Homo sapiens: one gene and its partners. The protein of the gene in region 4 interacts with the protein of the main gene of each other region in a pairwise test. Each region holds a gene or a part of one and is shown on either strand. Other genes may lie near its edges.

Region 1 (5,035 bases), on a different chromosome or scaffold from region 4:
ACACAAGTAATACAGTCCATGCCCAATAAATGATAGCTATAAAATGGGGTTTGGGATTATCTGGTACTTGAGTAGTCTCGAATCGTTTTAATGTCAGTGGTGGTGGTTTCTCTATTCCTCCCTATTGTTTCTCTCTGTTACCACCTTCACCACCCCATTTGTATGGTTCCTCTTCTGTATTGTGGGTAATTTGATTAAGTTTACTAATTTAGCATACTTTTATTTTGATAGGTAACACATACAAATGGTCCAAAAGCAAAATTGCAATAGACTAAAACCATGAAAAGTAGTCTTCCTCCTTTCCTAGCTCCCAGCCATCTAAGTCTCCCTGGATCAGCCATAATTACTAGTCTCTTGGTGTTTTCCTAGTGTTTATGCTTTAACAAATGTATAGGAATAGTTCTAACCTCTCTTCCCCCACGAAAGTGACCTAATTTAAACTCCATTCACTACCTTGCTTTTACCTTTTTTTAATGAAGTTAGCACATTTTAAAAGTGGGCAGCTCAGTTACAAAGTGAGCACATACATATAGCTCCTACCCAGGTAAGGAAATCAGATACCACTAGCACTAGCTAAGACACTAGCAAAGTCTCTGTCCTCAGTCATTCCCCCTCCTTTGAGAAAACCACATCCTGATTTCTAACTCCATCAATTCATTTGGCCTGCTTTAAAGTTGTCATAAATGGCATATGTATTCTGCTGTCTAGATTCTGTTAGTATTTTGAGGTTCATCCATGTTATGGTGTATGGTTAGTTCATACTTTTCAGCTTTGTATAGGTTTTCTACCTTATTCTTCACTCTTCATATCTTTGAGATGTTTCTGTATCATTACACAAACTATAGTTTTCTATCTACTTTTTAATACTGCAGAGATATTAGTTCTTAGCACGTGTTGCACATGGCCTCCTCTTTTACTAATTTGTAATTACTGTTACTCTGCTAACATTTTCCTTTATTTCAACATGGTTTTTCATAATTTATATCAACTGTTTAATTTTATTTGTCATAATTTATTAAAATACTTTCCTTAGAGGAATTTATGGAATAAACACAAATATGAAGTAATACTCATCCCCCCGTGTTCCCAATGAGAAGATTCAAGACATATTCTAGTTAAGCTGACTAGATAAGTTTAGGGGGGAATATGGATTATTTTATCAGTTTTCCCGTAGATATCACCTTCTGAGTTGAGAGTTAACATTCTGAATTGTATTTGCTAGCATGAGAAACTTTACCCCAAACCACAAATACTATTTACATACTATAAGAACAGTTGATTTTGTCTTTTACGTGTATCTGATGTCCATAACCTAACCATTTATTGTATTTCAGATGGTTTTTAAAAGGGCCTTATTTGCAGTGATACCAAGAATTTATGATTGTGAGGTCATACCCCCTGAAATAATGATCAAATCTTTGTTGCTTTTACAGCTGATTCTGTCAGATCATTTAAGATTAATGTGTCAAAAAAAGATGAATGTGTCTTCTGCAAACTGCTTTGTTGTTCAAAATAAATTGAGCTAATTATTAATATCACAGATAACAAGTAGCTTTTGAAACAATTTCTTGAATGATAAATTCAATAACTCAATTCTGGACTAAAGGAAATCATCAAGTCTTAAGTTCAGCAGAGCAACTTCTACCATCCCTCATTTCTATACTTACTGGGTTCAGTGTACTATTTAAATCTGTTACTAAAGTAGTTAACAAGTAGAAAAATACAGAGAGAAATTGTTCTCTGACTAGAGAAATAAGTGGCAAAGAGCACAAACTGGATGGTAATGTAAATGCTGCAGGTTATTACGGTAACTAGTCATTACTATACTAATCAACATTTCTAAAAGTCTTACTGGCATACATATTGAGAGAAGAAACAATTATTTTCTATTTATGTTTTGAAAGCCTTCCACAATAAAATAAGAATTCCAGTGGAAACTACTTGCCAGTTACTAGCTGGAATTTAAAATAACCTAACTGGGATGTTTACTTTGAAAATCTAGCTTATATGTGTTACAGTTGTATGTATGAAAAAACGTTCACAATCTTTGTCTTCCCCATCCCCCATCCCAGAAGATTAATTTGATACATGTTGGTTGGGAAGATGTAAAAATACAACTTTTTTCTTTTAGTTTGGATGCTCTTCCAAGAGTCACATGTCCAAACCATCCAGATGCGATTTTAGTGGAGGACTACAGAGCCGGTGATATGATCTGTCCTGAATGTGGCTTGGTTGTAGGTGAGTTGTTATTATGGTTTTAATTTAAATTACTGTTCAGGAGGCCAAGCATGGTGGCTCACGCCTGTAATTCCAGCACTTCGGGAGGCCAAGGTGGGAGGATCACCTGAGGTCAGGAGTTCGAGACCAGCCTGACCAACATGAAGAAACCCCATCTCTACTGAAAATACAAAAACTAGCCGGGCGTAGTGGTGGGCACCTGTAATCCCAACTGCCCAGGAGGCTGAGGTAGGAGAATGGCTTGAACCCAGGAGGCGGAGGTTGCAGTGAGCCGAGATCGTGCCACTGCACTCTAGCCCGAGCAACAGAGCAAGACTCCGTCTCAAAAAAAAAATAATAATAATAATAATGTTTAGGGTCCTTCACTTTTGCATAGTTTCCAAACTATCATTTAATGAACACATTTTTGACTTTCTTCCCCAACAAATAATTTATTGCAAAAAAACAATTAGGAAACAGAAACGAGTAAACTTATTCAGAGATATATTTTATTGTATATCCAAATGTATATTTTTATAATGTGGGGTGGGAGCTAATCCAGAAGAAACGAAAAGGCCCCAGTAATTTCATAAGTCCTTAGTCTGAAATATTTGGTAGAGGACTGGAGAGATGGGCTGACACTCATGCATATTAAATAATGAATACATGTAATCAAACTTTTGTGGCTTTTTTATACATTGGGAAGTAGATAAACATGATTTTTGAGTCCCACTTAAAGCCTTTTAGTCAAAAAGAAGATTTATTATAACTTTTATACAGTCATCTATTGATGAATATCTTGTATAAAATTATTGCCAAAAATAACACTTAAAGTTTCACCTTGTTCCTACTTGCACACTAATCTAGATATGCAGCAGAACTTTAGACTACAGATAGTCTGTTCAAAAATTATTCTTGTGGTGGAGTTGTAGCATCTGAGAATAGGGGTAATATTTAGCAGTTTGAATTACTTAAGAATGAAAATTCTAGAAGGATTGTGGGCAGTATAACAGAAGCATTAGTAGTGGCATACTGTGGACTTGACTTACTTGGTCCAAGAAGGCTGCTTGCCTCAGACCTATAGTGGGAGTTTTAAAGTATAGAGTTGCTAATAGGAATTGAGAATCATTTGCAACCGTATTCTGCTGAGTAAGGAATATTAATAGCTAATATGTTTACTATATACTAGGCACTATTCTAAATGATTTACATATTCACTCAGTTTATCCTCACAACAAACCTGTGAGGTGAGTACTACCATTATCTTCATTTTACAGATAAGGAAACTGACGTTTAGGTAGTCTAGAAGACTGGCTCCATTGTCTGCGTGGGAGGCAGATTTCTATCTTGTATTGCCTTTCATAATAATAAAATTTTAATCTGGGGTCGTCAAAGTACAACCTATATATGGCCTATTTGTTAATTCTGGCTTTTACATTTTTAAATGGTTAAAAAAAATCAAAAATAATATTTTAGGACATGTGAAAATACAAATTTCAGTATCTATAAAGTTTTTCTTCGTTTGTTTTTTGAGACGGAGTTTTGCTCTTGTTGCCCAGGCTGGAGTGCAATGGCGTGATCTCGGTTCACCACAACCTCCGCCTCCCGGGTTCAAGTGATTCTCCTGCCTCAGCCTCCCAAGTAGCTGGGATTACAGGCATGTGCCACCATGCCCAGCTAATTTTGTATTTTTTTTAGTAGAGACGGTGTTTCTCCACATTGGTCAGGCTGGTCTCGAACTCCTGACCTCAGGTGATACGATCGCCTTGGCCTCCCAAAGTGCTGGGATTACAGGCGTGAGCCACTGCGCCTGGCCAAAGTTTTTTTTTTGATACAGAGTTTCGCTCTTGTTGCCCTTTTGTTGCCCAGGCTGGAGTGCCGTGGTGCGATCCCAGCTCACTGCAACCTCTGCCTTCCAGTTTCAAGTGATTCTCCTGCCTCAGCCTCCCGAATAGCTGGGATTACAGGGGCCCACTACTACACCTGGCTAACTTGTTGTATTTTTAGTAGAGACAGGGTTTCAGCATGTTGGCCAGGCTGGTCTTGAACTCCTGACCTCAGGTGATCCACCAGCCTCAGCCTCCCAAAGTGCTGGGATTACAGGTGTAAGCCACCATACCTGGCCTGGTATCTATAAAGTTTTAATGGAATATAGCAACACTCACTTGTTTACATAGTGTATATGACTCTTTTCACATTACAACAGCAGAGCTTAGTAGCTTCAACAGAAACCACATGTGCAGCTCTCATCACTTTTTTTCTGCTGCTCAGCATACTAATTGCAGTGATGCAGTTATAACAGCAACATGTTGATCGCCACATATGTTGCCATACTGCACTATTTTATTTATTTGTTTTTATTACCATTACATATCCATCACACCAAAACAAGAAAAGTTAACTTTGAATGTCATGCTTTTAAGGCATGGTGGAGTATGGATTATTTTGTCACTGAATTAGATGGCAAAACATTGTGTTTATTACACAATGATACTGTAGCTGTGTTAAAAGAATACAGTAAGCGTGGACATTACCATACTGAGCACTCATCAGAATATTTCTAACTCAGGAAAACAATGGTCAGAAAATAATGTAAAATAGAATATCTTAACACAACAGAATTTTTTCACAAAAATAAAAGAATGAAACTGAGGCTGCAACTAAAGTTTCTAAGTGGCTTATTTCTTGGCCAAGCAAGGAAAGCCATTTACCAATGATAGGTTAATTCATATTTGATTGCAACAGCTGAAGAAATGTATGCAGAGAAAATAAATTTATTTAAGACTGTTAGCATCTCACCAAGAACAGTTGCTTGAAG
Region 2 (5,035 bases), on a different chromosome or scaffold from region 4:
AGAAAAACTTACATTTATTGAGTTCTAACCACGTGTTAATCACATTGCCAAGTAATTTTCCTGCATTATCTCATTTAATCCTCCCAACAACCTATCATAGGCACTAAAGAGGAAAAGCCTTTGAAGCAGGCGTTAGTACATGCAATGTTATAATTCATATGAATATGAGGTACAAAAGAAGAGGTGTTGATGTTTTAAAAACATTAATGGCTATTTATTGATATTGCAGACCACCTAGAGAATGCTAAATTGAACATTTAGTGACAGAAGATTTTCTCCTGGATACTTTAAATACATAAAAACTTGGCAGAGTTTTTATGAAATATAAATTTTATTGTATTCATTTACATATTAAAAAATAGACTCAGAGGCGGAAAAACTTCCTTGAAATTGTTTGTCATTTGTTCTACAGTTACTTACTGAAGTCATTACTATTTACCAAGCATCATGCTAGGTGCTAGGCTTACAAGAGTGAACAAGGAGACAGGGTTCCTGTCATTATAGAGCTTAATCTACTGGGGAAGATTGAGTGGGAAAGATTGACTTAAATAAAACAGTAAGTTCAGAAAGTTAGGAAGTGTTGGAGTCTATATTTAAACTTAGGTATTTTGACCCAAAAGCCTGTACTGTTTCTAACATACCATGCTGATGCTCTAGCCTCCATTTTATATGCTTAAACTTATTATGGGGCTTTTAAATAGAATATGTATTATCCTTGCCAGGGCAAAATATAAAGAAATAATTGACTGCCTGCTATATCTGTCTTCACCTTTCTATCCCTATTATCTGTTTTTTTATTCCTCTTTTTTGTCTCCCTTGTTTCTTACCCTGACTTATGTATGAAGATCTCTAGTATTTCTTTACTATTGTGAGGATGACCAGCGGAGAGGTAATATTATAGCAGTTGCCTAGTACTTCTTCCCTAGAGCACTGAAGTTCTAAATATGAAAGAGTGGATAAGTAAATATATCTTTTTTATCACTTTCATTTTGTTTCATTTTTTAGACTTTAAATATTAACACAATGACAGCCTCATTTGAAGCTAGCAGCAAATATTTGGAAGGAGGGAACCTTTAATACATCAAGATTAAAGTTAACTTTAAATTATAAATGAGTCATTTTAATATGTGGGAGTGAGAATCTTAAAACATAATGAAAACCTCCAAAAGAAAAGTGAATTAGGAAATACATGCCTGCTTACCTGTCTTTCACACCCCAATTTTAGAAGAAAAATACTTGGGATGGATTGAGTAGGGGGCAAGAGAGAAAAAAATATATTACAGTAAATATCACTGAAAAATGTTCAATTTGTGGAAATGAATACAAATAAAATTTTATCAATCAACTTTTTTTTTTTTTTAAAGAGACAGGATCTCACCATGTTGCCCAGGCTGGAGCACAGTGGCTATTGACAGGCTCGATCAGGCACACTTCAGCCTAGAACTCCTGGGCTCAAGGGATCCTCCTGCTTCAGCCTCATGAGTAGCTGGGACTATAGATGTGCACTAGTGAGCCCAGCTCAACAGTTAGTTTTAAAGGCATAGAAATGTTTTTATGTTCAGAGAAAAGTATCAGCGCTGATACAGGGCCGTGGTAGCTAAAAGTCAATTAAATTTGAAATGTAACTAGTACACAGCTTTGCAGACCATTGAATAGACTACCAAATCAAGCACCTTTGCAGTAAAACCTTTGTAGAGACTTGAAATTATTTGAATTTTTTCCATGTCACAAAATTATACCAACTTGTAGTTGATTAGACCACAAAATATAGGTATGCTTATGTTGGTTGAATTTATGTATTTGATTTGCCCTGCAATTTTCTTATGAACTCTTACAATTTTTTTTTTTTTTTTGAGATGGAGTCTTGCTCTGTTGCCCAGGCTGGAGTGCAGTGGTGCTATCTCGGCTCATTGCAACCTCCGCCTCCCGGGTTCAAGCGATTCTCCTGCCTCAGCTTCCCAAGTAGCTGGGATTACAGGCATGCACCACCATGCCTGGCTAATTTTTGTATTTTTAGTAGAAACAGGGTTGCATCCTGCTGGCCAGGCTAGTCTCAAACTCCCAACCTCAGGCGATCCGCCCACCTTGGCCTCCCACAGTGCTGGGATTACAGGCATGAGCCACCGCGCCCGGCCTTAAAATGTTTTTAGCGAAGCTCTGTTAGTTGGTTTTGAACTCTGGATATTCCTGCCGTAAAAGTAAATATGCTATTGTGTTAGAATCAACTATTTTTCCTATTTCTTTACAAAAATGGATGACAGTCATTATTAGGGAGAATGGATGGTTTCTAATTTCCTAAGCAAAATGAAGTTTTTGTTTACTGTAAAAGTTGTCTTATCCTTGTTTTTTCTAATATCTATAGTCTTTTCCTTACTTATTTCTTCCTCTTTGCCTTTAACCATATACGGGTCTTCTGCATTTCCTTGTATCCCCCAAACCCTTTCATCTTTTGCTATAATGATCTGTGTTACCCACCAAGCAAGGTGGCACCTTCCTGTAGTCCCAGTTACTCGGGAGATGGAGGCAGGACAATCCCTTGAGGCTAGGAGTTCAAGGTTGCAGTGCATAACAACTATGCCTGTAAATAGCCACTGCACTTTAGTCTGGACAACATAGCAAGACCCCATCTCTAAAATAAATAAATAAATAAATAAATAATGATCAGTGCTACCATTTTTTGAAAATGTACAATCACTTATTCCTCAAATTTAACTTCTGTCCTACCACAGAGGCATTTAATCACCAAATTCAGTAATTTTTTTTCCTTTCAATTCTTACTCATCTGTTTTTTTAAAAATAACATTTAATGTAGACCTCTTCCTTTATTAGTCTCTGATACTATGGTTACTTGGATAGCTTTCCCCCAAGGTAATAGCTTTTCTTCTTCCACTTCACTACTGCCACCTACACCAGCACCACCCTACTCCTGCCCTTCAGTCAACAAATTTCAAGTCAGAATTCAATTAACATGTCCCTACTGTATGTAAGACATATGTGGTACTATAGATATAAAAAAAAATGAAGAATATATCATTATGAGACTGACTACTTGGATGAGGAAGATAACTATAATATGAGGCTGACCACTTATGAGAAAGAGATTCTGGCTGGGCATAGTGGCTCACACCTGTAATCATAGCACTTTAGGAGGCCCAGGTGGGAGAATCACTTGAGCCCAGGAGTTTGAGACCAACCTGGGCAATATAGTGAGACCCTCTCTCTACAAAAATAGAAAGAAAGAGGGAAGAAGGAAAGAGAAAGAAATCCCAAGTATGGAAACATTACATCAAATTTTAGGGGTACAGGAGTATGCCAACTAGTAAGCAATTATCTTAGCTCCAGACCCACCTTTCTATGCTCTGCTTTGTGACTGGACCTAGTACTCTGCAAGCCACATGTTTCTTTGCTAGCTGACTCTCCATTAGACTCTGTTGCCATATGGGGCTATCGTGGGAGATTGCATGGATGGAGGAAGAGAAAGGGTTTTCTCTTACTTTCTCTTGTCTTTCAGTTCCTTTGAACAACCCAGCAACACTTCTTCACCCTGGTTGCATCAGTTTTCCTGTAGCAGAGACTGAACGCGGTTTGCATTTTCTCTAATACACCACCAGCCTGAACCCGCACCCCATCCCCCCACTCTGGCAGTGTGGATCCCAACCCTTGGGGCCCTCCTCCAAGCGCAGATATATTAGTACTAGCTTATCTATGCCCATTCTTCCGAGGCCTGAGTTTCAGTTCCATGAAGTGGTTTCTTAAGCTTCTAAATTTTAAAAATTCCAGCATTTTCCTTTATTCCCTCAGTTTTAGGGTTGGTGGCTGCTTCCTGTAGCTGCTACTTTCATGACATCTTCATGTTCTCTTCCTGCCTTTTCAGCTCCCTAATAACAACTTTATACTTGTTTAACAATTCTTCGTATTAAATTTTTTCCATTCCAGTAACTCATGTGACATCTATCTCTTGATTATACACTGACTGATGCCAGGAGGAGAAAATAGTATTTCAGTTTGACTTGAAGGAAGGGTAGAATTTCAGTAAGTGGCAGGAAATTTCACATAGGATGAGTGTCAGCATGAGTAAAGGTAGCAAAGATGAGGAAGTATGGTGTATATTTGGGAAACATTTTGTGTTCTAGGCTTTTTTGAAGCACAAAGTACATGTTACAAAAAAAGACTATAGAGAGGTTGGGGTAGACACTAATTTGGAAGACCTTGAACTCTAGGCTAGGAAATTTGGATTTGATTGATAACAAATGATTTTTTTTAAAAAAATGAAATAGTGACCTGATTAGAATTTATATCTAGAAATGTTTGGATAATAAAGTCATGACAGATTATTCAGAAGAGTGAGGATTGTACATGGTAAAATCTTAAATGTTACTGGTTATGCTGGGCATCACTGTTTTCCTGTAGCATGTTCATTCAGAAAATACTGAGGGCCTTTATGTTAGGAATGCAACAAAGAATATGGAAACAATCTCTATTCTCAAGTGTGGTGGAAAAAAAGGATATAAACTTAGATAATTCTAGAACAAAGTGGATGGATATGGGAATGCATAGGGAATTATGGTATATTAAATAGAGCATAAAATATGGCTTGGAAAGGTCAAGAAAGACTAGCTGATTTGCATTTCAGATGATGACTAGGAATTAGCTATGCATAAAGGGGAGGGTCTGAGTTGGACTTAAAGAACAATTCCAAGAACAGACAGAGAAGGAGAAAAGGATTGTTTTGGCAGAGTCTAATGGGAAATTGTAAGACCTTTTTAAGAACAGGTTCATTTTTTCCCTTCTTGGTGTGGTTTTTCTGCAAACAGATGAAATTAAATTGTGAAGGAGCCTTAGCTGTTTCATAGGTAATTAATAATGTATGCATCCTGGTTTCTTAAATCCTGTGGTTGTTTTTAATAGAGGATATATCAGATGAATGGATTTTAAGTAGTATCTTTTTACTAGTGTGTATACGGGAAGGATATGTATATTTGTATGTGTGTATATGCAAATGTGTGTACTTACAGAGAGGGAATGAGGGACACAG
Region 3 (5,035 bases), on a different chromosome or scaffold from region 4:
TGGAAATGTGCATTCTCTCTGGAATGCCCTTGCCCATCAAACTCACCCGAGCTTCAATGTACTCTATTCTCCGTTCAAGGGCTGTCAATTTCTCGTTTAGTGTTGCAAGTCTTGAACGACAAGACATATCTGAGAAAAAGAGACTGGTGTTCAGGATTAATGTCACTCCAAACACAGACACAGACACACACAACACCTACAATGAAAAAGAGGAATAATACACAGAATACAAATGGAAATGGATACAGTGCTAAGATCCACTCATAGCACAGTTGCTTAGAGTGGATCTGCTGAACTTCCTATCAAGTGTTGCAAGTAGAGAATAACGGCCCCACAAAAACGTCCTTTCCTGCAGGGCACGGTGGCTCATGCCTGTAATCCTAGCACTTTGGGAGGACTAGGCGGGTGGATCACCTGAGGTCAAGAGTTCGGGACCAGCCTGGCCAACATCATGAAACCCTGTCTCTTACTAAAAATACAAAAATTAGCCAGGCATGATGGCACATGCCTGTAATCCCAGCTACTTAAGAGGCTGAGGCAGGAAAATCACTTGAACCGGGGGGGGCAAAGGTTGCAGTGAGCCAAGATCTCGCCACTTCACTCCAGCCTGGGTCAAACAGCAAAACTCTGTCTCAAAAAAAAGTCCTTTCTCTAATCCCTGGATCCTGTGAATATGGATTATACATGAGGAAACAGGGCTTTGCAGGTATGATTAAGGTTAAGAACCTTGAGATCCTAGAGTTTGTCTTGGATTGTCCATTTGGGCCCAATCTAATCATAGTCCACAAATGTAGGTGAGAAAGGCATAGGAAGGGGGTCAGAGATGAAATGGAAGAAGAAAAAGAGATTCCAAGTGTGAAGGGGATGCAATCTGCCATTGTTGGCTTTGAAAGTGGAAGAAGGGAGCCATGAACCAAGGGATGTAAGTGACCTTTAGAAGCTGGGAACAACTCTCAGCTCACAGCCAGCAACAAAACAGAGATCTCAGTCCTACAACCACGAGAAACTGAATTCTGCCAACAACCCAATATTCGAGGAACTAGACCCTCTCCTAGAGCCTCCAGAAAGGAAGGCAGTCCTGCTGAAACCCTGATTGGAGCCCAGGCCAGGAGCAGTGACTCATGCCTGTAATCCTAATACTTCAGAAGGCCAAGGTGTGAAGACTGCTGGCCAAGGTGTGAAGATTGCTAGCCCAGTGACCAGTGTTTGATTTATGACCTACACATGGTAAATAATAAATGTATGTGGTTTAAGCCACAAAATGTGTGGTAATTTGTTTTTTTGGTTTTTTTTTTTGAGATGGAGTCTCACTCTGTTTCCAGGCTGGAGTGCAGTGACGCAATCTTGGCTCACTGCCACCTCTGCCTCCCGGGTTCAAGCGATTCTCCTGCCTCAGCCTCCTAGGTAGCTGGGACTACAGGTGTGCGCCACCATGCCCAGCTAATTTTTTTTTTTTGTATTTTTAGTAGAGACGGGGTTTCACCATGTTGGCCAGGATTGTCTCAATCTCTTGTCCTCGTGATCCGCCCGCCTTGGCCTCCCAAAGTGCTGAGATTACAAGTGTGAGCCACTGTGCCCAGCCTGTGTGGTAATATGTTATGCCAGGAATAGCAAATGAATACACCAAGGCTGTACAGCCATTTACTAATGGCCTAACTAAGACTTTCAAGAGAGGGGACATGGCAAGAATAAGAAAATAATCTCAACAGGAAAGAAACGAGGCTGGGCGTGATGGCTCACGCCTGTAATCCCAGCACTTTGGGAAGCCAAGGTGGGCAGATCAACTGAGGTCAGAAGTTTGAGACCAGCCTGGCTAACATGGTGAAACCCCATCTCTACTAAAAATACAAAATTAGCTGGGTGTGGTGGCGGGTGCCTCTAGTCCCAGCTACTCGGGAGGCTGAGGCAGGAGAATCACTTGAACCTGGGAGGCGGAGGTTGCAGTGAGCTGGGATTGCACCACTGCACTGCAGCCTGGGTGACAGAGTGAGACTCCATCTCAAAAAAAAAAAAAAAAAAAAAGGCCAGGCACGGTGGCTCAGGCCTGTAATCCCAGCACTTTGTGAGGCCAAGGCAGTGGATCACGAGGTCAGGAGATGGAGACCATCCTGGCTAACACAATGAAACCCCGTCTCTATTAAAAATACAAAAAATTAGCCGGGTGTGGTGGCGGGCGCCTGTAATTCCAGCTATTCGGGAGGCTGAGGCAGAGAACTGCTTGAACCCGGGAGATGGAGGTAGCAGTGAGCCGAGATTGCACCACTGCACTCCAGCCTGGGAAACAGAGTGAGACTCCGTCTCAAAAAAAAAAAAAAAGGAAAGAAAGTAGAGGCCAAGAAAGCAGCAGAAATTATGGGGAGGGAAGGTGTGAGAGTTCTGAGCTCATTAAAGCCATGTCACTACTGTTGCTCCTAGAGGCAAAGGCCTTTCAGAACTAGAGAAAAGTTGGAGAGCATCAAATACCCGATAAAGCCCACATTCCATCTGTGAAAACAGCCAAAATTATTCTTCTTCCTCTAGCTTTTCCAATCTTCTTTTACCATCTCATTCAAAATGAAACCAGATTTAATTTAAAACAACTTTTTCTCTGCAAACTTCTGTAACAGGAACTATTCTTTTTCCAACTATTCTCAACATATGAGAGAAAAGGTATCTTAGCATGGTCATTATCTTCTACTCTCTCCTCCAACATTGTTGTTCAGTCATCTCTCAATAAACTTCAGTTTTCAAGTCTGAAATATTCGCTGAGACTCTCCCACGCAATGATTTAACACTTAGCTAACAAGTTTCCTTTTCATCTATTCCCTGGCTGTTTTGCAAAAGCGCTTCAGCATCCATTTTGACAAATCTTCCTACACCCTGATCTTGCCTCAACTTTCATCTTATTATGTCCAAATCTTACTCATCTTGCCTGCCTATCTCCTTCAAGGCTAAGTTCAAATTCTATCTCTGAGAGGTCTTGCCAGATGGACATAATAATTCTTCCTCTTCTGTATTTATCTAAACATTTACGGATGAATTTTTTTTTTTAAAAGAGACATGGTCTTGCTCTGTCACCCAGGCTAGAGTTCAGTGTTGCAATCATAGCTTACTGCACCCTCCAACTCCTAGGTTCAAGTGATCCTTCCACCTCAGCCTCCCGAGTAGCTGCAATTACTACTCAGTAGGTGGATGCCACTGTGCCTGGCTAATTTTTTTGTTTTTTGTTTTGGTAGATATGGGGGTCTCACTTTGTTGCCCAGGCTGATCTCAAACTCCTGAACTCAAGCAATCCACCTGCCTTGGCCTCTCAAAGTCCTAGGATTACAGGCGTGAGGCACCGTGCCAGCCTCTGAATTTCTAATTTGTAAGTTATTCATGTACTTGGTCTTTGGTTATGACTTCCCTCTTTGGATAAAGATTTTACAAATAAGAATGTGCATCACTACTATTTAAGATGGTGAAAAAGCAACAAAACCAAATGCCCATGATTGGAATGGTTTGATATAGCGTATTAATGAGACTATTAAAATAGCCATTGAAAGTTACAAGTGGCCAGGCGCGGTGGCTCATGCCTGTAATTCCAGCACTTTGGGAGGCCGAGGCGGGCGGATCACCTGAGGTCGGAGTTCAAGACAAACCTGACCAACATGGAGAAACCCCATACCTACTAAAAATACAAAAAAAAAAGAAATCCTGTCTCTACTAAAAATACAAAATTAGCTAAGCATGGTGGCGCACACCTGTAATCCCAGCTACTCTGGAGGCTGAGGCAGGAGAATGGTTTAAACCCAGGAGGCGGAGGTTGCAGAGAGTCAAGACTGCACCACTGCACTCCAGCCTGGGCAACAGAGCGAGACTCCATCTCAAAAAAAAAAAAAAAAAAAAAAAAAGTGGCCGGGTGCAGAGGCTCACGCCTGTAATCCCAGCACTTTGGGAAGCCGAGGTGGGTGGATCACCTGAGGCAGTGAGCCGAGATTGCACCATTGCACTCCAGCCTGGACAACAAGAGTGAAACTCTGTCTTAAAAAAAAAAAAAGTTTGAGGAATATTTAATGAAATAGGAAAATATTCATGTTACGAAACCAAATGATATTTATGTACTTGTAATTTACAATTTATTTACATGTCTGTTTCACCGTTAGAACAAGTTAATCAAAAGAAGTACATATTGCCTCTTGTAACCTTAGCATCTTGCCTGGTACATAGATGTTGACTGAAAAAAAAAAGATGGATTCTGGTATATTAGTGGAACAAAAGATTGACTCTAGTGTAACTCTATTCACCTTACAAGTGGGAAAACTGAGGTCTAGGTAAGCTGAGGGCCCATGTTGGGTCACTGGTATTCTTTCCCATACTGTGTGCATCCCAATGCACACTACTATCATCTTTCTGTGCCTCCGGGGCTATAATTTATACCCCAGGTCTCCAGCCCAACTCTGCCACTTTCCATTCTTTCACCTGCTTAAAGTATACAATTCAGTGGTTTTTAGTATACTTACAGAGTTGTGCAATAATTATAATCTACTTTTAGAATATTTTCATCATCCCCAAAAGATACCTTATACCTCTTAGTCCTGTCACTCCCCATTCTGTCACCCCTCAGTCCCTGGGAACCACTAATCTTTGTCTCTATGGATTTGCCATTTCTGGACATTCTTCATTCTTTTTACGCTTGTGCTGCTTGAATTCCCAGGTCTAGCTTAAGTATGATCACTTCAGCATCCCCCTTTTCCTGGATGTACTGCCACTTTCTGTCGGAACTGCCCAACAGGACCAAGCCTCTTTTCAGTCTGGTTTTTGGAAGTCTGAAAGCACGTTATGTATGCTACTGAGTAAGAGCATGAATATTATCTCTGACAACCTGCCATTTCCCATGAAGACATACGAAAATTATTGGGGGAGGTAGGAGAGAGGGAAGTTTCCTTCCTGGGTGGCTATTCTGTTCTAGCTGTCAATCTGGTAATGAATTAGAATTCAAGAACAATACTATGCTCCTGGCCTACATGGATAAACACTGTTGAGAAATAGAAAATGTTCAACTGCAGAAACCTTG
Region 4 (5,035 bases):
ATTCGCCTCCTCTCCTGGGACCCTCACTCGAGGCTCGGGTCAGGCTGGGGGCGCCTGCTGGCTCCCCCTCTGCAGCTGACAGCCTCCGGCCCCCCAGGAGGACCCAAGAACAGGGAGGCCGAAGGGCATCAAGCCTTCTTCACCTGACAACAGGGCCCCAGGCCTAAAAGCGCCACTAATCCCTCCCTCGGCCGTGGGACTCCCGAACCGCACATACAAGTCCTGAGTGATACTTGTCACAGCCCATGCCTGCCCACTAAGCCGCCTTGAGCCCCGCACCCACTGAGGGCCTCTCTCAACTACGACGGCAGCGTGTGCGGACAGGGATGGCACTCTCGGCTCTGCCCGGCCTGCTCTGCCCTCGGCCCTGAGCCCCTGCACCAGGCCTCCGTGGATTGCCAGGCTCAGGGTGCAACACTGGCGGGGGCAGCCCAGAGCCACAGGCAGAGCTGTGAGGGAATTCCTGAACTCCATTCCTTCTTACTCCAAAACTACACTTCAGGGGCGGCCACGCACCCTGCCCAGCCCAGCAGTCGGCATGTCCCTGTGCTGTGACCAGCCCTGCCAGGCCCCCAGCTCTCAACCACAGCCCCATTTCACAGAAGATGGAAAAGGGGCCAGGCTTCAGGCCACCTGGCTAGGACCACAGGCGAGCACGGCCCCACCGGCTAGAGGGCAAGGGCACCAGGGTACCCAGAAAGGACCAGCTCAGGGCCAGGCCACCTGCTCCTCAGAAGCCACCCCAATCCCATCCCCACAGAGAGTGTGGTCTCCGTCACCCCTGGGGGCTGCTCTAGGACAGGCACCCAACAAGACCACGGCCAAAGTTCCACAGCCCCAGCCAGCAGCTCAGGAAGAACAGACTCATCTCCGCCCTCCCCACGGCCACACTCGGCCCGGATCCTCCCCATGTTCACACTCGGCCCAGATCCTCCCCACAGATGGATCTGCCTTTAGCGAGAAGTCGGAAGACCAGCCCCAGCTGCTGCCATCTCTGCCTCCTGCACCCCCCTCCTGCCCCTGAGAGCTGGCCCAGCGGGGGACGCACAGGGCCGTACCAGCCTCTCCCTGCTGACGATGAGCAGCCCGCGTGCTCCGCTGCCCTGGGCCAGCCTCACTTTCTCATAGAAGGTGCAGTTCCCCCGCGCCACCAGCGGGATCTGGTTGCTGAAGCCACGGGCGGGGAGGTCGGCTGCGGAGCAGAGCAGGGAGGCCGTCCAGTTGCGCAGCTGCAGGAAAGACTGGAAAGGCCAGGGCACAGTGTTGTCTCACGTGATGTGAGTCACCAGGAGGGCCCAGCTGCCCGTTCTCCCACCTGAAGCCTGCGCTGAGTTAGATCCCAGCCCTCACCTAAAGCCCCGCACGGCCTCGGCCCACCTAGGCAGAGCCATCCCTACTGCAGCTCCCACAGCCGGACCCTGGGCGACGGGCTGGGCTGCCTCATCTGAGCGGGGCCGGAGTCCTCACAGACATGGCTGTCCCCTGATACCTGAGCCACCCCGCGAGCCGTCACAGATCACTCAGCAAGACCAAGTGGGTCCCCACCGCAGCCCCACCACGGCCAGGCATCTGTGAGAAGGGGGAGGGTTTCCAGTGTGCAGAGAACAAAGCCCCAACTCTCAGGGGCCTCACAGCCCCTGAAGCCAAGACACACACGCACACACACACGCACACGCACACACACACCCACAGCCAGGCCGGAACACGCGCACACACAAGCACACGTCCACAGCCAGGCTGGAGCACACGGCACACACATGCATACATGCACACACACACACACACCCACAGCCAGACCAGTGCACACGCACACACCCACAGCCAGGCTGGAGTGCACACACACACACACGCACATAGCCGCAGCCAGGCCAGCGCGCACACACACACACACCCACAGCCAGGCTGGAGTGCATGCACACACACGTGCACACATACACAGCCAGGCCGGACCACATGGCACACATATGCACACGCAAGCACACACATGCACACTCACACTCAAGCAGACACATGCCTATTACACACATGCACACACACACGCACACACAGCCAGGCCAGAGCACACAGCACACGTGTGCATATACAAGCACATACCTGTGCACTCAAGCTCACGCACACACACCTATTACACACACATGCATACACACACGCCACATGAACTCACACACTCACACGCACATACCTATTACACATGCACTCACACACACTCATGCACACACACGAACCCAAACACACAGGCACATACACATCCACACACAAACCTATTATCCACATGTACACACACATACACACAGACCTATTACACATGTACACACGCACACATGTGCAGACACATGCACACATCCACAAACATAACTATTATGTAGCTACATGCTTACACACACCTGCACACATACAGACACACATGCACTCACACATCCATACACAAAACTATTGCATGCACACTCACAGGCACATGTGCACATAAAAACAGACATACACATTCAGACCCATGCACATGCCCCCACACACCTATTACACACATGCTCACACACACAGGTGTGCTGACACACAAACACGCACTAAGGCACACATGTCCATGCACATATCTAGTACACATGTGCTCACACACACAAACTCAGAAATATGCACTCAGGCACATGTCTTCACACATACCTATTACATGTGTTCACATACCTATTACATGTGTTGACACACACCTATGTGTTCACACACAAAAAAACACTCAGGCACATGCACACATACACTGATGCAAACTCACATAAACATGCAGACACATGAGCATGTCCAGGCACATACTGATTACACACGTGCTCACACGCACACACTATGCATAAAGCTGACAGGAAGATGCTAGTGCCTCTTCGCCGGCACACCTCGAGGGCTCCAGGAGGGGGCGGGACACAGTGGGAAAGGAGGCGGGGCCTGAGGGACTCAGTGGGAAAGGAGGCGGGGCCTGAGGGATGCGGTGGGAAAGGAGAGAGGGCCTGAGGGATACGGTGGGAAAGGAGGCAGGGCCTGAGGGATGGGGTGGGAAAGGAGGCGGGGCCTGAAGGATGCAGTGGGAAAGGAGGCAGGGACAGAGGGGTGTGGTGGGAAAGGAGGCGGGGCCAGAGGGATGCAGTGGAAAAGGAGGCAGGGCCTGAGGGATGAAGTGAGAAAGGAGGCGGGGCCTGAGGGATGCAGTGGGAAAGGAGGCGGGGCCTGAAGGATGCAATGAGAAAGGAGGCGGGGCCTGAAGCATGCAGTGGGAAAGGAGGCGGGGCCTGAAGCATGCAGTGGGAAAGAAGGCGGGGCCTGAAGGATGCAGTGAGAAAGGAGGCGGGGCCTGAAGGATGCAGTGGGAAATGAGGCGGGGCCTGAAGGATGCAGTGGGAAAGGAGGCGGGGCCTGAAGGATGCAGTGGGAAAGGAGGCGGGGCCTGAAGGATGCAGTGGGAAAGGAGGCGGGGCCTGAAGGATGCAGTGGAAAGGAGGCGGGGCCTGAGGGATGCGGTGGGAAAGGAGGCGGGGCATGAGGACTAAGTGGGAAAGGAGGTGGGGCCTCTGAGGGAGGGACTCATCCAGCAGCAGGTGTTAGTGCCCCAGTCAGGAAGACGGTGAAAGGAACAGGTCTCGTCCCTGGGGCCCCACTGTGCCCTCTGCTGTTACTCCTCTGAGGACCCCTCTGTCTGGGCCCACTGGATAGGGTCCCCGGCATGGAGCAGTAGAGACCCTTATCTACCACATGGAGCTCGGCCGGTGCCTCTGGATCTGCACCCCAAGGCCGCATGGACAGCTTGCATTGATGACCAGGGTTGGGGAGGCCCAGGGGAACTGGGGGCCAGCTAAGAGTCCCCCAGACCTGGTCAGGGCCTGCCTCTCGCCTCTGGATCTTTCCTGCAACCCCAGCCGGATGTGTCTCTAGAGCCCCGGGGCCCCCGCATTCTCCTCCGCAGCGGCGCCCGGCCAGCGGGTACTCACTGCCTTGCTGAGGTCGTGCGGAAGATGGGCCCACTGCGGGTTGTAGAGGATGCAGTAGTCTTTGCCTTCGGGGCCCCCGGCCTGGGAGACCACGTGCACCATGCCGTACTCACAGGCCACCTGCAGGACAAGGCCAGCAGTCAGAGCCACAGCACGGGACGTGCGGGGCTGCACCGCCCCACGAGAAACAGGCCCGAGGAGGGGAGGACGCCTCCAGGAAGGGCGCCCATGTTCACCAGGTGGTCTGGGATGCTTCCCCCTCTCGACAGGACAGACAGGGACGTGACCATACGTGGTTTACAGCAAAGACCCAGACTGGCTCACCTTCCTCAGGGAGCCCCAGGCTGGTGACCATGAGTGTGTCAGGTCACCCCTTTGTGGCTCCCGAGTTTCTGCACCAAAAAACAGGGATCGCACCACCTCCTGGGCCTCCCAGGATCAGTGGGCACGGTGGGAGAATGACAGCCACGGGCAGAGCCACGGGCAGAGCCCTGAGCAGGGAAGCAGGGCAGGGCCCCAGCGGACCTGGCCCCCAGCCTGGGCGGGAGGCCTGGACAAGCAAGCCTCTGCACCCCTCAGGTCTGGGTGGCCTTTGACCCACAGCCCCGTGGGCACTGCTTGTTGGCTGGTGCTCCAAGGCACACGGGGGCCCAGGCACACGGTGGGGCCCAGACGAGGGGGATCCCCAGATCAGCACCCCTCAGCTCCCACTGGTAGAACAGCAGGAAGCAGGTGGGCCAAGGGGCCTACGGGCACCGGGTCCTGAGTGGGACAGGCTGAGGTTTGCAACAGGTCACGCTGCCACCAGCAGGACAGACAGCGTCATGTTCCCCATGAAGCCCCAAAGCAGCAGAGTCCAGCACAGCAGCTCCCACTTCGCAGGAGGGAGAAGGAACAGCCAGCCAGGGCTTCAAGTTCCTGCTCTCCAGCCTGCAGCAGCAGCAGCTCAGAGAAGGCCACAGGGAGAAGGCCCGGATCCACGGGCAGGAGCCCCTGACACACAACGGGGACAACAGGCCAAAGCCAGCCAAGAGAAGCAGGGGTGGTGGCCACCGCGCCCAGGACAGAACGGG
Region 5 (5,035 bases), on a different chromosome or scaffold from region 4:
TGAGCAGGGTCCTGTCCTGGGCTGGCGGGTCAGCAGCTGACATGCGGCTCCCTGCAGGGAACAGGTGGCAGTGCCAGGTCTCGGTAGGAGCCTTGAAGTGGCTTCCCCTCCCTGAGCGGCGGCTTCTGCCCGGAGCCCCCAAGAACATAGTCTGAGGCCACTTTGGCCAATAAAGTCTGGTAGGGCATCAACACTGGGGGCCAGCTCAGTGGCACTGCTGATGGGACCTGCACGGCTCCATGGGAGCAGAGAGACTGGTGGGGGTACCACCGCACGATGTCACAATGCCCTGTCTCCTGGGCTCTTGCTCCCACCCCACCCCCAACCCACAACCCCTGCCTCTGCCCATCAGCCTGGCCTTGGTAAGTGCTGCCCCAGCCTGGGGAAGGAATGAGCAGGGGAGCCTAGGGAGCGTCTTCATGGGCCCTGTGGCCTCCCATGGGCCCCGGTTCCTCGTTGGTGCCATTAGAACTTGTTGCTGGGACTGCGGGATTCGGGCCACATGCCCGCAAAGAACTCCATGTTCCACTTAGAGGCTGCAGAGTGCAGTGCCAGGGGTGCCTTCCCAAAAGTCCTCCCTGCCTGGGTGGAGCGTAGACAGCTCAGCACCCCACGGGGGGCGTTGGAGCCAGCCTTGGTTTTGTTGGGTAAGGATGTTAGAAGAGGGGCGAAGACCCATAGCCACTGGTGTGAAGGGTCTGCTCTTGACCGAAGGCTGCCTCCCTCTGGGTGCAGACCAGGCAGGTGGTCCCAGTCACGGTGCCCTGGGGCCACTGGGTCTGTCTGCCCTCAGGCTCCACTAGACACACCTGCGGAGGCAGCAGACTAGCAGCGGTGTCTGTGAGGGGCAGCTGCACAGCCCCCTCTTGAGGGTGCTCCTAGGCGTTGGTTAGGCCCAGGCGTTTCTGCTTTTGGGGAGCAGAGCCTGGAGTCGGGCATGGCTGGGGAGGAAGCTATCGCAGGCTGAGCGCGGGCTGGGGTGCTGACCTGCATCCCAAGAGCAGATTTGCCCCTGGCCTTCTGGGCCTGTCCTTTCTGTAACACCACACTGGACACCTGGGAGCAGAGCGTGCCCCCGGCAGGATCCCACATGGCTGCTGGAGCACTGGGGCAGCAGGTGACTGAGGTCGCCCAGAGCTTGAGGGAACACCTCATCCAGGGAGGAGGCTGAGGCTCCCAGGCCACAGTAGCAAGTGGGGAGTGGAGCCTCACAACCTGCCTCCCACCAAGATGGTCCCTCTTAACATTACACAGAAGCAAAACCTTAGAGGGGGCCCTGATGTCCTGGGACTGTGAGAGCCCCATGATTCCCCTTTAGCTTGGATGGACCCAAAGGTATGGACTCCAGCTGGGAGGCGGGGGCAGCTGATAGAGAGCCTAGAGCCGTCTCAGTGCTCCAGGCGCTTGGCCCCTCCTTTCTACACAGTGGTCACCAGCATCCTCCCTGGCGTCTCCTTCATGAGTGGGCACTCCACCCTCTGCCCGGCCACCTGGCCCCCTCCTGGGGAGGACAGTCAGGCCCACAAAGAAGCTCCCTCTTTTTTTTTCTTTTCCCCTGCTCTGTTGTCCAGGCTGGAGTGCAGTGGCGCCATCTCGGTTCACTGCAAGCTCCGCCTCCCGGCTTCACGCCATTCTCCTGCCTCAGCCTCCCTAGGAGCTGGGACTACAGGCGCCTGCCACCACGCCCGGCTAATTTTTATTTTTATTTTTAGTAGAGACAGGGTTTCAACGTGTTAGCCAGGATGGTCTCAGTCTCCAGACCCTGTGATCCGCCCGCCTCGGCCTCCCAAAGTGTTGGGATTACAGGTGTGAGCCACCGTGCCTGGCCGAGGCTCCTTCTTTTGTAAGAACTTTGAGGGTGCTCTGGGTGTGGCAGTGGTGTGGCCAGGACAGCCACAGAGACCGTTCTGTAGAATGGGAACACCAGCCACCATGGTGGGGTGGCCAGGCCTGGCCTGTGGAAAAATGCAGGGAAAGCTAGTTAGCCAGTTAAAGCTTATTTCAGATAAATGACGAAAAATTTTTAGTGTAAGTATGTCTCAGATACTTCATGGGCCATACATTCACTAACAAAATTATATATTGTTCATGTATTGGGAGGCACTTGGCCTCCCAGAGTACTGAGATTACAGGCATGAGCCACTGCGCCCGGCCTGTTTTCTCTTCACAACAAAACGTCCCCACATGGGCTTGACTTCGAAGTCCTCGAATGTCATCTCATGGAAGCCCCACTGGGGAGCATCCTCAGCCCCTGCCCAGGGAGGGCAGCCACGGGGAGGGCGGGCACGGGGAGGGTGGGCACGGGGCTGCGGCCACCCGCTGTGTTGCAACTCTGCCCTCTGCTTGCTTTTTATCGCTGTGTCCGGAAGATGAGGAGCGGGAAGGCCTCCTGCACCCTGGAGACCGTGTGGGAAGACAAGCACAAGTATGAGGAGGCCGAGCGGCGCTTCTACGAACACGAGGCCACACAGGCGGCCGCCTCCGCCCAGCAGCTGCCAGCCGAGGGGCCAGCCATGAATGGGCCCGGCCAGGACGACCCTGAGGACGCTGATGAGGCGGAAGCCCCTGACGGCGGCAGCAGGCGTGATCCCAGGAAGAGCCAGGACAGCAGGAAGCCCCTGCAGAAAAAGAGGAAGCGCTCCCCCAAGAGCGGGCTCGGCCCCGCGGACCTGGCCCTCCTGGGCCTCTCGGCCGAACGCGTGTGGCTGGACAAGTCACTTTTCGACCAGGCAGAGAGCTCCTACCGCCAGAAGCTGGCAGATGTGGCTGCCCAGGCAGCCTGGCCTCCTGCCTTGGCCCCTTGGGGTCTCTGCACCCATGGAAACCAGGTGGCCTGCCACCACGTGACCTGGGGGATCTGGGTCAACAAGTCCTCCTTCGACCAGGCTGAGCGGGCCTTCGTGGAGTGGTCTCAGGCCCTGTTGCTGGCCCCCGACGGCAGCCGCAGGCAGGGGACTCCCAACACAGGCCAGCAGGTGGCCGTCCCCGACCTGGCCCACCAGCCCAGCCCACCGGTCAATGGCCAGCCCCCGCTGGGCAGCCTGCAGGCACTGGTTCGGGAGGTGTGGCTGGAGAAGCCCCGGTATGATGCAGCCGAGAGGGGCTTCTACGAGGCCCTGTTTGACGGCCATCCCCCAGGGAAGGTGCGCCTGCAAGAGCGAGCCGGCCTGGCCGAGGGTGCCCGGCGGGGCCGCAGAGACCGGCGGGGCCGCAACATCTTAGGGAACAAGCGGGCCGGGCTGCGACGGGCCGATGGGGAGGCCCCCTCTGCCTTGCCCTACTGTTACTTCCTGCAGAAGGATGCAGAGGCCCCCTGGCTCAGCAAGCCTGCCTACGACAGCGCCGAGTGCCGCCACCACGCTGCCGAGGCCCTGCGGGTGGCCTGGTGCCTCGAAGCTGCCTCCCTGTCTCACCGACCCGGTCCTCGGTCTGGCCTGTCCGTGTCCAGCCTGAGACCCAAGTAGGAGAAACGTGCTGGGTGGGCACCCAGCCTGGGCTGTGGGCACAGGGACAGCCATCCCAGGCTGGGGCTCCTCCAGCTTCCTCCCCTGCCCACCTGGGGTGGGGGCTCCCCGAGACCCGTGGGCCCAGCAGAGTTGAATGCAGGAGCAGGCTGAGTAAAGGTGGTGCTGCGCTTGTGGGTTCCAGGGACACTGCTTGAGGTTACAAAGTTCCAGGCTGCCTGGATGAGGGCAGGGAAGGGCTCAGCACAGGGCAGAATCTCTGCCTTGCCCAGGGTCCCTCTTTGGCTGGGAAGCTCCCCAAGTCCCCTGTGGCTGTCACATGCCAGGGCTGAGAAGATAAGGCTACTTATAGGGGCGGGAAGCATTGAAGCTGGTTTCTGGCCCTAGCGCTCCCCTGCGATGAGATGTGGGAGCCAGTGTGTCCCTGCCTGTCCATCCTGTGCACCCCCAGCTTTCCTTGTCACCTGAAACCACCTCTGAGGGAAGGTGGTGGCGTCTCAGATGCATGGGCATGTGGCTGGTCAGGTGGCCTCCATCCCAGGGTGCCCCGTCTGTGTGACCTCCCTCTGGGTGCTGTGGGCTTGCTCCAGGGTGCAGGTGCAACCCCAGCAGCGGTCTCTGGGGCCAGGCAGGTGGGTGGACGATTGGACTTGGAGGGGAATACAGAGGGCATGGAAGTGGCGAGGCTGGCCTGTTGGCGAGGGTGTCCTGGTGGTGGGGCGGGCTGAGTCAGGGAAGGACTCTGAAGGTCCCAAGCAGCTGCTGAGGCCCCCAAGGAAGTGGTTCCAACCTTGGACCCCTAGGGGTCTGGATTTGCTGGTTAACAAGATAACCTGAGGGCAGGACCCCATAGGGGAATGCTACCTCCTGCCCTTCCACCTGCCCTGGTGTTCACGGTGGCCTGGTCCCTCCTTGCCGAGAGAGTGTCCTGGGTCAGGGACGCAGAGGACGCTCACAGACTCCAGCCCTTTGTTACCGAGAGGACACTTGGCAAGGTCCAGCGATGGTCCGGAGTCCACACACAGACTGGCGGCAGGGCAGGAGGGGGACAGTTCTGTTGTGCTTGGTTGGACAGTAAGAGGGTCTTGGCCAGTCCAGGGTGGGGGGCGGCAAACTCCATAAAGAACCAGAGGGTCTGGGCCCCGGCCACAGAGTCATCTGCCCAGCTCCTCTGCTGCTGGCCAGTGGGAGTGGCACGAGGTGGGGCTTTGTGCCAGTAAAACCACAGGCTGGATTTGCCTGCGGGCCATGGTCCCTGTCTAGGGCAGCAATTCTCAACCTTCTTGCTCTCAGGACCCCAAAGAGCTTTCATTGTATCTATTGATTTTTACCACATTAGCAATTAAAACTGAGAAATGGGCCGGGCACGGTGGCTCACGCCTGTAATCCCAGCACTTTGGGAGGCCGAGGCGGGTGGATCACCTGAGATCAGGAGTTCAAGACCAGCCTGGCCAACATGGTGAAACCTTGTCTACTAAAAATACAAAAAATTAGCCAGGCACAGTGGTGTGCACTGGTAGTCCCAGTTACTCGGGAGGCTGAGGCAGGAAAATCGCTTGAACCCAGGAGGC
Region 6 (4,248 bases), on a different chromosome or scaffold from region 4:
AAGGTTACTTAATTTCTCTGAACATATACTTTTTCATTATTGTGAGTATAAAACATTAAATTCATATTATAATGCCTGGCCCATGACAGGTACTCATAGATAGGAGCTGTTATTATCATTCTTATTCTCCTTGAATATTCATGGAGTGCAGTGGCACGATCTTGGCTCACTGCAACCTCTGCCTCCTCAGTTCAAGCAGTTCTCCTGCCTCGGCCTCCCAAGTAGCTGGGATTACAGGCACCTGACACCAGGCCCAGCTAACTTTTTTGTACTTTTAGTTGAGATGGGGTTTCACCATGTTGGCCAGGCTGGTCTCGAACTCCTGACCTCAAGTGATCTGCCTGCTGCAGCCTCCCAAAGTGCTGCGATTACAAGCATGAGCCACCGTGCCTGGCCTCATGGTCTTAAATTTAGAGCCACAGATATTGGAGCCTACTTTCCAACATAAACCCAAAGTAAGGGGGGTGGAATACCACCTTTATTTTATATTTTTTCAAAGAGATTTTTCAAATCATTACATTTCAAGCTTGTGGGAATTCAATGAAGTACATTGGACAGGGACTGTACTCCTTTTATGGAAAGGAATGACTTAATTGAGAAATACAACTAATTTGTATCAACTAGAATTAGAACACAGATCTCCTGATTTCTAATTATTCACTGTGACTATTTATCATAAGTAGCTTCCATTAAGTTTATATGCCATAGCATCTCTAACTGGTTTATCCATTAGCTTTTACTCCTTAACAAATCAGTCCAACACTTAGTGGCATAAAGCAGTATTTACAAACTCACTGAGTCTGCATGTTGACTGGGCAGTTCTTAATGGTTTTGTCTGAACTTAGCCATTCTTTACAAGGGCTCACTTATGTTCCTATGTTCAGTTGTGGGTTGACTGAGGGCTGGCTTTGCTGATCTTGGCTGGGCTCTCTCACATAGCCCAGATTCAAGGAGGCTTTTATAATCTACCACACTGGGCCTGCCTTCCCATCAGTTTGAATGTTGCAGTAAGACATTCTCTGAGCAAGTTACTACTTTGTGTTTGCCATTTATAAATGGAAGAGAAGGAAAGTGAAGCAAAACTGATCCAGCTTCTTTCTACAGGGCTTTTTTGATATCCCAGTAGACAATTTGTATGCAGAGCCGGCTGTCCTAAAGTGGATAAGGGAGAATATCTCTGAGTGGAGGAACTGCACTATTGTCTCACCTGATGCTGGTGGAGCTAAGAGGTATGGTTGAAATTAGTATTGTTCCCAATGTACTGGGAAAATCTTTCAGATGGTTGTGTCACAAAGTGAAGTTTTTCTATCCAAGTGGCAGTTTTTAAGTATTTTTGAATGGATGTAAGTAGCTAGCACATGGGTTGAATATAGTTTTACCCTTTCCTCTTTTACTGTCCTCAGTTACTACTCGGAAGACAAGACAGAAAAGGGGTCCTAAATCATCATATTATGGATTTGACTATAACTTATGAGTAACTTGGTGCTACAGAGCTAGCAATACAGCTATAAACCTTTTGGGAAGGGTAGAAAATGTGGTTTTCTAATGAATAGCAGCTGCTATTGAACCACATATTGGTGGACAAATTCGCTTTTACACTCCTCTTACAATGCTGTTGGTTAGATCATTTTGATCCTTGGGATTAAAATATTAAGCAGGAAGGAAAGTAAAGTGTGACATTTTTATTTAAAGCCAAGATCTTAACATTTTAAACAAACTGATTGCCAGGGATTGCCAGTTAACAGTGCTTTGCAGCTCACATGGTGCAGACTAAGAGCTCTTGATTTCCTTAGTGGATTACTCGTTAGTAATGCATTCAAAAGTGTGACACATGTTCTTCTTGTTGTGGAAATAGAATGAAGAGCTACAAAACACAGATGATTAGGAAGAGCTAATTCAGAACTTTCTAAAAGCCATTCAAATCTTCAATGACTGTTTCTCAACAACCTCTTTTATTTCAGTAACTTCAACAGAACTGATAAGCTGAGAACTTGAGTTATGTTATCCAGCCAGATATATGGGTTGGTGAGTCCCATGTAATTGCTAGTTACCATCTGTAATGCTAGAGACAGCCTAAGAAACATCCCCCCAACTAGTAGTTGTCATATTTAATTTGTCGGTCATTATTTTAATATCTTTCTGTGGGACTTAGAAAATAGTCACATTTGAAATAGGCAGGATTTTCTTTCCAAAGGTGGGTATAGGAAAACTGCCTTTAGTAGACAACTTATTGCTACCTGATTTTTTTTTCATTATCATTGTCTTATAGTGATGGAGTATTTTACAATTGAGTGTCTATCACTTCTGTGTTGGCAGGGTTTGGGGAGTAGGTAGAGATCCCTGTGTGATATTCATTTGTACAGTAGTTCTCTCCTCAAAAGGTGTAGAGAGTTACTTTTTCTAGCCCTTTTTATGCTTTGTTGGTCACTGAATTTGTTGGCCTTTGAGTATGGTTGGTTTGGGATACTTGAACTAATTGATCATGCATTTGCCTTGGGTAAGTAATCATTCCAAGCGAATTGGTTACCACTGATGTTATGTGCTTATGCAGTAGTAGTAATGGAGAGTACAGGGTATGGTTGGTTTAGATCAAGGTACAAATGTTACCTAGATTATGGTTCAAACCTTATTATGTGGTCACAGGTTCTCACTTATCCAGCAAAAACTCATGTGACCATAGTCACAAGAGAAACAGGACAAAATGCTATAGTTTGTTCAGTTCTACATTAAAAAACAGGACAAATCCCCAAGCACGGGCTGCTTCACACATGACGGAGATGGCACAGCGGAGCATGGACAGACGTGCCACTGGGGCAGCTCACTGTCATTTACACTGAATAGATTTTTGTTTGAATTATGTGGTACTTTGTCAAAAGACAAATTTGTCTTCTATCCTACCTTCTAGTCTGGTTTATTTTCTCTTGTAATAAGAAAAATAAGAATTCTCTTTGATTGGAAGATACTTTGGACCGAATGGTGAGATGCCTAGCTTGTCTGGGTAATTGATATAACTTTCTGTCTAGCAATTGTGAAAAAAACTCCCAAGCTTGGTGTCCAGGTACAGTTGACAGTGACAGTTGATGGATGTTTTGCCAACAGCACTGAGGGAAGTGATGAGGACACAGGCATTGGAACAGGCTGGATGCTGCTCCTCTCCTGCCAGTCAGGTTCTCTTCTCACCACATCCCCATTCACGGGTCTTCCATGATGGGAATTGGGACAGTCTGTGTACTCCTGGCATTAGTTAATTCTTTCCTCATTCCTTCTGCTGCCAATCCATTAAATAAACTTGCGTGTCTTAGCGTTATACTGCTTCCCAGTACTGGTGAGGGTGTCTGTCCTCTACCCAGAATGAATACTCATCTAAGTTTGATCAGTACGTTCATAAGCTTCTGTTGAGCTATGGAGGCACTGGTTTATAAAACCCAGTTTGTGATATTTGCCTTTGAGAAGTCAATGATAGTTGCTTTCATTCTTCCAGCCCTGGGAACTATTGGTTTCAAGGAGTATTCTCCTCCCCAAAACAAGCCCATTCTTTAGTCCATTTCTTTTTTTCTTTTTTTTTTGTTTTGAGACAGAGTCTCGCTCTGTCACCCAGGCTGGAGTGCAGTGGCGCGATCTCAGCTCACTGCAAGCTCCAGCTCCTGGGTTCACGCCATTTTCCTGCCTCAGCCTCCCGAGTAGCTGGGACTACAGGCGCCCGCCACCATGCCCAGCTAATTTTTTGTATTTTTAGTAAAGATGGGGTTTCACTGTGTTAGCCAGGATGGTCTCTATCTCCTGACCTTGTGATCCGCCCACCTCAGCCTCCCAAAGTGCTGGGATTACAGGCGTGAGCCACCGCCCCCGGCCTCTTTAGTCCATTTCTTTTGTCTTAGAAGCCACACATACATATGAACACGCTCTGTTTTGCAGAGTGACCTCCATTGCAGACAGGCTGAATGTGGACTTTGCCTTGATTCACAAAGAACGGAAGAAGGCCAATGAAGTGGACCGCATGGTGCTTGTGGGAGATGTGAAGGATCGGGTGGCCATCCTTGTGGATGACATGGCTGACACTTGTGGCACAATCTGCCATGCAGCTGACAAGTAAGTGTGGATTGATGGGGCTGGTAGTTAGAAGGAAAAAGCTAGCAATTGCTGTCTGAATGTCTTCAGCCTGCTGATTCCTTTTGGAACCAAATTGAGGGGATAAGTAACTTTGTGAGATTTTTATCACCCAAGGCTTAAATTATAATACATAGAAAT

Evidence for each region.
Region 1: the proteins of SPPL2B (region 4) and GTF2B interact in binary tests that used the Homo sapiens proteins (3 or more experiments, as listed by UniProt).
Region 2: the proteins of SPPL2B (region 4) and DR1 interact in binary tests that used the Homo sapiens proteins (3 or more experiments, as listed by UniProt).
Region 3: the proteins of SPPL2B (region 4) and BRK1 interact in binary tests that used the Homo sapiens proteins (3 or more experiments, as listed by UniProt).
Region 5: the proteins of SPPL2B (region 4) and EEF1D interact in binary tests that used the Homo sapiens proteins (3 or more experiments, as listed by UniProt).
Region 6: the proteins of SPPL2B (region 4) and PRPS1 interact in binary tests that used the Homo sapiens proteins (3 or more experiments, as listed by UniProt).

What each region holds. Positions count from the first base shown.
Region 1 is NC_000001.11:88,884,464-88,889,498, reverse strand, and holds part of GTF2B (transcription initiation factor IIB), read left to right. Parts: intron 1-2,131; coding exon 2,132-2,238; intron 2,239-5,035. UniProt on the Homo sapiens protein: General transcription factor that plays a role in transcription initiation by RNA polymerase II (Pol II). Involved in the pre-initiation complex (PIC) formation and Pol II recruitment at promoter DNA.
Region 2 is NC_000001.11:93,354,887-93,359,921, forward strand, and holds part of DR1 (protein Dr1), read left to right. Parts: intron 1-5,035. UniProt on the Homo sapiens protein: The association of the DR1/DRAP1 heterodimer with TBP results in a functional repression of both activated and basal transcription of class II genes.
Region 3 is NC_000003.12:10,120,720-10,125,754, reverse strand, and holds part of BRK1 (protein BRICK1), read right to left. Parts: intron 130-5,035; coding exon 47-129; intron 1-46. UniProt on the Homo sapiens protein: Involved in regulation of actin and microtubule organization. Part of a WAVE complex that activates the Arp2/3 complex. As component of the WAVE1 complex, required for BDNF-NTRK2 endocytic trafficking and signaling from early endosomes.
Region 4 is NC_000019.10:2,333,649-2,338,683, reverse strand, and holds part of SPPL2B (signal peptide peptidase-like 2B isoform 2 precursor), read right to left. Parts: intron 4,083-5,035; coding exon 3,963-4,082; intron 1,242-3,962; coding exon 1,059-1,241; intron 1,053-1,058; exon of another isoform or gene 1-1,052. UniProt on the Homo sapiens protein: Intramembrane-cleaving aspartic protease (I-CLiP) that cleaves type II membrane signal peptides in the hydrophobic plane of the membrane. Functions in ITM2B and TNF processing.
Region 5 is NC_000008.11:143,587,416-143,592,450, reverse strand, and holds part of EEF1D (elongation factor 1-delta), read left to right. Parts: exon of another isoform or gene 1-239; coding exon of another isoform or gene 240-362; exon of another isoform or gene 363-1,843; intron 1,844-2,369; coding exon 2,370-3,460; intron 3,461-5,035.
Region 6 is NC_000023.11:107,641,262-107,645,509, forward strand, and holds part of PRPS1 (ribose-phosphate pyrophosphokinase 1), read left to right. Parts: intron 1-1,104; coding exon 1,105-1,229; intron 1,230-3,915; coding exon 3,916-4,089; intron 4,090-4,248. UniProt on the Homo sapiens protein: Catalyzes the synthesis of phosphoribosylpyrophosphate (PRPP) that is essential for nucleotide synthesis.